Linked DNA regions of Homo sapiens. The protein of the gene in region 2 purifies or fractionates together with the protein of the main gene of each other region. This does not show direct contact. Each region holds a gene or a part of one and is shown on either strand. Other genes may lie near its edges.

What was found.
Region 1: the proteins of SOD2 (region 2) and ALDH7A1 fractionate together in Homo sapiens (co-fractionation; one large-scale study listed by BioGRID). This does not show direct contact.

Annotation. Positions count from the first base shown.
Region 1 is NC_000005.10:126,550,220-126,553,871, reverse strand, and holds part of ALDH7A1 (alpha-aminoadipic semialdehyde dehydrogenase isoform 1 precursor), read left to right. Parts: intron 1-473; exon of another isoform or gene 474-570; intron 571-1,734; coding exon 1,735-1,851; intron 1,852-3,578; coding exon 3,579-3,652.
Region 2 is NC_000006.12:159,690,997-159,694,748, forward strand, and holds the start of SOD2 (superoxide dismutase [Mn], mitochondrial isoform A precursor), read right to left. Parts: upstream 2,246-3,752; 5' UTR 2,172-2,245; coding exon 2,149-2,171; intron 1,868-2,148; coding exon 1,665-1,867; coding exon of another isoform or gene 1,468-1,664; exon of another isoform or gene 1-1,467. UniProt on the Homo sapiens protein: Destroys superoxide anion radicals which are normally produced within the cells and which are toxic to biological systems.

The DNA.
Region 1 (3,652 bases), on a different chromosome or scaffold from region 2:
CCTCCTAAGGTGTTGGGATTACAGGCATGAACCACCACACTTGGCTCTGTTTGTTTTTGTGACAGGGTCTTGCTCTGCCACCTAGGCTGGAGTGCAGTGGTGCACGATCTCAGCTCACTGCACCCTCTTCCTCCTGGACTAAAGCAATCCTCCCACCTCAGGCTCCTGCGTCTTGCTCTGTTGCCCAGGCTGGAGTGCAGTGGCGTGATCTCAGCTCACTGCAACCTCGCCTCCCAGGTTCAAGCGATTCTCCTGTCTCAGCCTCCCGAGTAGCTGGGATTACAGGCACCCATTACCATGCCCAGCTAATTTTTGTATTTTTAGTAGAGAAGGGGTTTCACCATGTTGGCCAGGCTGGTCTGGAACTTCTGACTTCGTGATCCACTGTCCTTGGCCTCCCAAAGTGCTGGGATTACAGGCGTGAGCCACCGTGCCCAGCCAGAAATACACGTTTTAAAGAATGACAACAATGCTTGCTTTGGCAGCACATATACTAAAATTGGAAAGATACAGAGAAGATTAGCATGGCTTATGCACAATGATGATATGCAAATTCATATCCGTATTTTAAAAAGTATTCCATATTTTAAAAAAAGACAGCAGAAAATGCATGGGACATTTCTGGAAGGACATAGAAGAAACGGAGTCATGGTTGCTTTTGAATTGGGTCCTTAATATTTGTATGGAAAGGAAAATTCCTTTTCAAGTACAGTAGGAGACTTTGTATTCAGAGCAATTATAATCTATTTATTGGTTATTTTAAAAAGTCAGTTAAGGCAAGGAATAAAAAAATACATATCATAAGCATTAAAAAAGAAATTAACACATATTGCCAGGTGCAGTGGCTCACACCTGCAATCTCAGCACTTTGGGAGGCTGTGGTGGGAGGATTGCTTGAGGCCAGGAATTCAAGACCCACCTGGACAACATAGTGAGACCCTGTCTCAAAAAAAAATTAGCTGAGTATGGTGGCATGCACATGTAGTGCTAGCTACTTGGGAGGCTGAGGTGGGAGGATTGCTTGAGCCCACAAGTTCGAGGCTGCAATGAGTCATGATGATGTCACTGCACTGCAGCTTGGACAACAAAGCAAGACCAAATCAAAAACAAAAAACCAAATAATAAAAAAAAAAAATCAAAAACAAAAAACCCCCCACATATAAAGATTTGTTTGTGGCCGGGCATGTTGACTCACACCTGTAATCCCAGCACTCTGGGAGGCTGAGGCAGGTGGATCACTTGAGGTCAGAAGTTCAAGACCAGCCTGGCCAAAATGGTGAAACCTGGTCTCTACTAAAAATACAAAAAAAATTTAGCTGGGCATGGTGGTGCATGCCTGTAGTCCCAGTTACTTGGGAGGCTGAGGTGGGAGGATGGCTTGAACCCGGGAGACGGAGGTTGCAGTGAGCTGAGATCAAGCCATTGCACTACAGGCTGAGTGAAAATAACCGCTTGCAGCAGTGTTTGTTCAACATAACTTGGTTGTGTCACATGGCATGGCTCTCTATCCCTGCCTGACTCCTTATTTCCATTTTTCTCTGACCAACTAAGTTAGAACCAATATCAGGAAGAGAGAATTTTCTTTCATGATTGGAAGTTATTTTGGAGAAATAATTCACCTATAAATGATGCTAATTTTTTTCTTTATAAATGTAGGCAAAGATTGCATCCTCTGACCCCAAGTCCTAGAAAACAAAATGCTTTCATTCTTTTTATTTCATTTCTCTGCATTAGGTTATGGATCGCCCTGGAAATTATGTAGAACCGACAATTGTGACAGGTCTTGGCCACGATGCGTCCATTGCACACACAGAGACTTTTGCTCCGATTCTCTATGTCTTTAAATTCAAGGTAAAAATGCATTCTGTTCGCTAGCCTGATGTTGAAATAAATGATAAGAGGAAAATGATGGTGGATTAAATTTCACTGGATGAACCTTTAAGAGGGTTTTAGAAAGTAATCTGAATAGTAGATATATGAAGGTTCAGGATAAAATATGAGATAAACACTTTAAAACTCTATAGCATGCCAAGCTAGCTGCCAGGGAAACCAGATTGGGTAGTGGACCAGTGTTGGAGTTTATGAAGTGTGTGGTCCTCATTTCCTGTGTCATCTTAATCCTGGGCTGTGTAGGCCATAGAGTCACCTTCTCCTGAACCGTGGTACTGGATAGTTTGATAGCCTGAGTGCTGTGAACATGTCAGCAGACAAAATGAGAACATGTGGGGGTAATACAAAGACCTATAGTTGGCCAGGCACGGTGGCTCACACCTGTAATCCCAGCACTTTGGGAGGGTGAGGCAGGCAGATCACCTGAGGTCAGGAGTTCGAGACCAGCCTGGCCAACATGGTGAAACCCCGTCTCTACTAAAAAACAAAAAAATTAGCCAGGCGTGGTGTTGGGCGCCTGTAATCTGTAATACCAGCTACCTGAGAGGCTGAGGCAGGAGAATCACTTGAACCCAGGAGGCTGAGGTTGCAGTGAGCCGAGATCGCACCATTGCACTCCAGCCTGGGCAACAGAGTGAGACTCCATCTCAAAAAAAAAAAAGACCTATAGTTATAAACTCCAGCAGAGGACAGGCTGCGGAGTTTTGTTTTGTTTTCCCTGATCTCATATCTTGATCTCAAACTGTAAAGGTTTTAATAGGTGAAGAAGCTGGGCACAATGGCTCATGCTTGTAATCTCAGTGCTTTGGGAGGATCACTTGAGGCCAGGTGCTCAAGACCAGCCTGACCAACACAGTGAGACCTTGTCTGTACAAAAAAATTAAAAAATTAGCCAGGTGTTGTATGTACCTATAGTCCTAGCTACTCGGGAGGCTGAGGTGGGAAGAGATCCTGTCTCTAAAACAAACAAATAAATAAAACCCAAAAAACCCACACAGGTGGATAAATTAGAAGATCTCATTCCCTAGCTTGAGACGGGCCCTAGCCTCGCCAGTAAATATTTAGGATTAATTTTGAGACTGCAGAGATTGAATCAATATTTGAATGTACCATTATTAACAGTAAAATAATAGTGAGAATTGCATCTTGTTGCAATTACATCATTGCTTCTTTATTTCTTGCTTTAAATTGCCTATCATTGTTTCACGTATGGGGACTAGAGAATATAATTTTGTGTTTTGTAATGTGTTTGTGTACATTATGAGGCTGTGTGAGCTCTTGAGCAAATTAGTCTCTGTAGGCCTCAGTTGCCCAATCTGTAAATTGGGAGGTAGTAGGAAACCTGTGTTATAGGATGAGGATTAAATAACTAAATGCATGTTAAGTGCTTAGATTGGTGTGTTACACACGTAAGAGCTCAATAGATATTAGCTATTATATGTAGTAGCTTGAATGAAAGGAAGAATGTGTTAATATTTGTTTCTGATAATTAGGGGAAAAATCCCAAAATTTTTTACTTATTATCAATGATCTGAATTATAAGAGAAACAGAGTGAGTAAACTTGACTCTTTGGTTTCCTTTTGTACACTGAAATTATACTGGTACACTTCAGGAAATGAGTTTAATGTCAGTGAACTTTGACTTGAACACTATAACATCTTACAGCTTCCAATGTCTCTCCTTTTAGAATGAAGAAGAGGTCTTTGCATGGAATAATGAAGTAAAACAGGGACTTTCAAGTAGCATCTTTACCAAAGATCT
Region 2 (3,752 bases):
TTCAAACATGAAAATCTTTTTAATAATTTTTAAAATATGTTTAAGTAAAAGAAAGCTCTGCAGGTACTCAATCACTTATAAACAATATAGTACAATACAATAAAAAGCTTTTTTCCAGTGGGTTGTATTACATAAGTAAGGCTCTGATTCCACAAGTAAAGGACTGAAATTAAGTTGTTTTTAAAATACTGAAGAGAAAGGTTCCTGGTGTCAGATGTTGCCTTACAGGAAGTACTTTCACAACTGGGGTATTCCCCAGTCTCTCCCCATTACATGTTTCCCAAATTTGTTATTTCCTAAATCACGGGGCCTTTTCCCGTAATTCAAGGTTCGTCTGTCTCAAGTAAATCTTCCAGAATGTGGTAACTTCCTCCTCTTTTAATCATTTACTTCAAACACAATCAGGCTGAAATACTGCATTTTTCCACTAGATGCCTCCAGTCAACAAGATGTGACTGTCTAAAAATTACTCAACAAATTTCATAACCCCGAAATTCAAAACATTTAAGGAAAAGTAAACATTTTTTACTACGTAGCTTACCAAGCAATACAGAGAGTCTAAAAAACATGACTATCGATTATCTTCCTTGTGCAAACCACTAACGAATAAATTAAAAAGACAATACTATTTTGTAAAAAACGTTAAAACATAACATTCCCATACACACCCCCAAAAGGCACAGACTCAAAAAGTCCACATACCCCTGGTTTTATCAACCGAGCTCTTGAGAAAAAAAAAAAAAGTTAACAACATATATTTTAATTGCATTACAAATATGAGTAAATAGTAAATAAAAACAAGCCTGTTTCAGTTTCCCACTAAAGGGCTATTTTCCTTGTGAACTTTGACCCCTAAGGGAAATCAAGAAAAGTATCAAGTCTAAAGATCCTGAACTGTTCCACAGTTAGGTTACTGCTTTTTTGGTAACGCACACCACAACGGTGTGCCTCCTCCTCTCCCACCTGAAGTCAAGTGGGCTCAGTGAAGTTTCACCTGCAGGGTAGCTGGGGATGCAGGGAGTCTCCAAGTCCTAGGCTGGAGTCCCGACCCCGTTTGCTCTCAGGAAGATGACAAGGACCATGGTTCCTAGCACGGAGTAGTGTCCTCCTGTCTCCCACCTTCAGTGTGACCTGGCAGTAAGACACCACTCCCACTTCTATCAGGAGGTGACCCTGACACTCAGAGACACCTGCGGACCCGATGATGTCTGGCCACCAGTGGACAGGCGCTCTCAGCCCTCCTGCAAACGGCTGGCACACCTACCTGAGAGACCAAACATTTCCCCAAAGCACATTATACAACAAGAACAATTTCAATTTGCAAAAAAAACGAGTGACACAGTAGAGCTTTCTTTTCAGGCCCTACAATTCACCAGTGCTGGCAATATGTGTAACGGAATGTGGCTCACAACAGTAAGGCAAGCTCCTTCGCAGGACCCCAAGTTCCCTGAGATGACAGAAGTGTGTTCAAACCCATCGAGGCACTCCTTCTACAATGAGGTAGACCATGTGTTTAAAAGAGAGACTATCGTGCCTGGAAAACTCGGAACCGGTACAAATACGAAGCGAGTTCTCCTCCACGGAGAGGCCCGTCCGTATGGGGCCTGGCTCCCTGGGGTCGCCTCTGCCGGGGACTGCCTCCCGCCGCTCAGCCTGGAACCTACCCTTGGCCAACGCCTCCTGGTACTTCTCCTCGGTGACGTTCAGGTTGTTCACGTAGGCCGCGTGGTGCTTGCTGTGGTGCAGCTGCATGATCTGCGCGTTGATGTGAGGTTCCAGGGCGCCGTAGTCGTAGGGCAGGTCGGGGAGGCTGTGCTTCTGCCTGGAGCCCAGATACCCCAAAACCGGAGCCAGCTGCCTGCTGGTGCTGAAGACGAGAAAGCACAGCCCGGTCAGTCAGCGCCGCGGGACCGTCTACGCAGGCTGGGCTGCCGAGGAACGGCAGCGCGCGGCGTCCCCCGAGTCCCCGCGTCCCCTCCCTGCGGATCCCCGCTCCAGCCGCCGCGCCGGGCACTCCCGGGAGAACCGCCTGCAGGTGCCCCGGTCCCGCCAGGCCCGGTGCGGCCACTGTCGCCATTGCCGCGGAGGCCCTGCCCGCCGCGAGCCCCTTCGCCCTTGGGGCCGTGACCGGGTCCCCTTTCTTCTCACCCGCACACTGCCCGGCTCAACATGCTGCTAGTGCTGGTGCTACCGCTGATGCCGCCGATCTGCTGAAGCCGCTGCCGAAGCCACCACAGCCACGAGTGCCGCTCCTGCGCCGCCCGCGGGCCTTAAGAAAGCGCGGGGAGCAGGGCCGCGACCCCAGCTGCGCCGCAAGGGCACCGCCGCCCCGCCCCCCCCCCCCGCGGGCCCCGCCCCGCGCCCGCCGCGCCCAACCCCGGGGGTGCCCTGCGTGCCTGTCCCGCCCGCCCGCGCTTGCCGTACACCCCGCGCCCAGGGCACGGGAGAAAGGAGGCTGCAGGCTAGCCTCGGCCTCGGCAACCTCGCTGCCTGTCTGCCGTACTTGAGTGGCGCGCGGCCGAAGGGAGGCGGCCCCTGCCCCCGTGGAGTTGGTACGGCCCGAAGGCCCTGCCTCCGGCTCCGCCCCTGAGGGTGCCGGCGGGGATCTGGCTGCACTAGGCGGCTGCGGCGCCTGCCCCTGAGTTTTGGTTGCGCTGCCGGGGGGCCGCGGGGTCCAGAGGCCTCACTGCAAAAAGACATTCATACCCTCCCAGGGCCCCCGTGGCCGTTCCTAGGGAAGACGGGGCCTAGCTGCTGGTCAGCGCCGCCCAGCCGGCCTATGAGCTGAGGGTAGAGCCAGCGCCCTTCCAACCCGTATTCAGTACTCTTGCGCCGTACCCTTGCTTTGCAAGTAAGCCGACCTTGGGACCTATTCCAGGACAGGAGGCACACAGACTTTGTCCCCACCGGCTGCCTAAGAACAGTTCTTGGACACCCACGACGTGCCCGAGACTGCAGGCAGGATTTGCACACATTTATCTTTATTTTTACCCCTAGGGTTGGTATTATTGATTCTAGTAATAGTGAAATCCTTTGAGGTTAAGCAGCTTCTCCTGGGCACAGTTAACTGAGTCAGGACTAGTTCCCACCTTCCTCACTACTAAGCCCTGGCAGTCATGTTTTGTGTGTTTACAGTAACTCTGTGAACCAACTGTTCAGGATAACATAAAAGGACAACAGAGGATTCTTTCCTGCGCTGTCTTGTAGCCTAGTAAGCTGTTAAGTATCAAGTGCTCTCTCAACAGTTAAACAACAATCCTGAATGGTGTGAATCTTCCATGTGTAGAGGTTAGGAAATCTACACTGCCATTGGCGGGAGTTGCCCCTTTATTGAAAAGAATATGATGGAAGGTAGCAGGTGCTGAACCGTTTCCGTTGCTTCTTGCAACCCCCGTACAGCCCTCCGAAGGATGACTAGGCTTCCGGTAAGTGGAATGGGAAAACAGTCAGGCGAAGAGGAACCACCTGAACTTGGCTTCACAACAGGAAGGGCTGGGCTTGTTTACAGACGTCAGAAGAATGTAACTAGGGCTACGTGTTGGGGTGAAAAAGGAAATTCAGGCTGGGACCAGGTTATAGATACTCTTATTTTTTTAATTTATTATTTATTTATTTTTGAGACACAGCCTCGCTCTGTCGCTCAGGCTGGAGTACTGTGTCGCGATGTCGGCTCACTGGAACCTCTGCCTCCCGGGTTCAAGCGATTCTCCTGCCTCAGCCTCCCGAGTAGCTGGAATTACAGGCGTGCACCT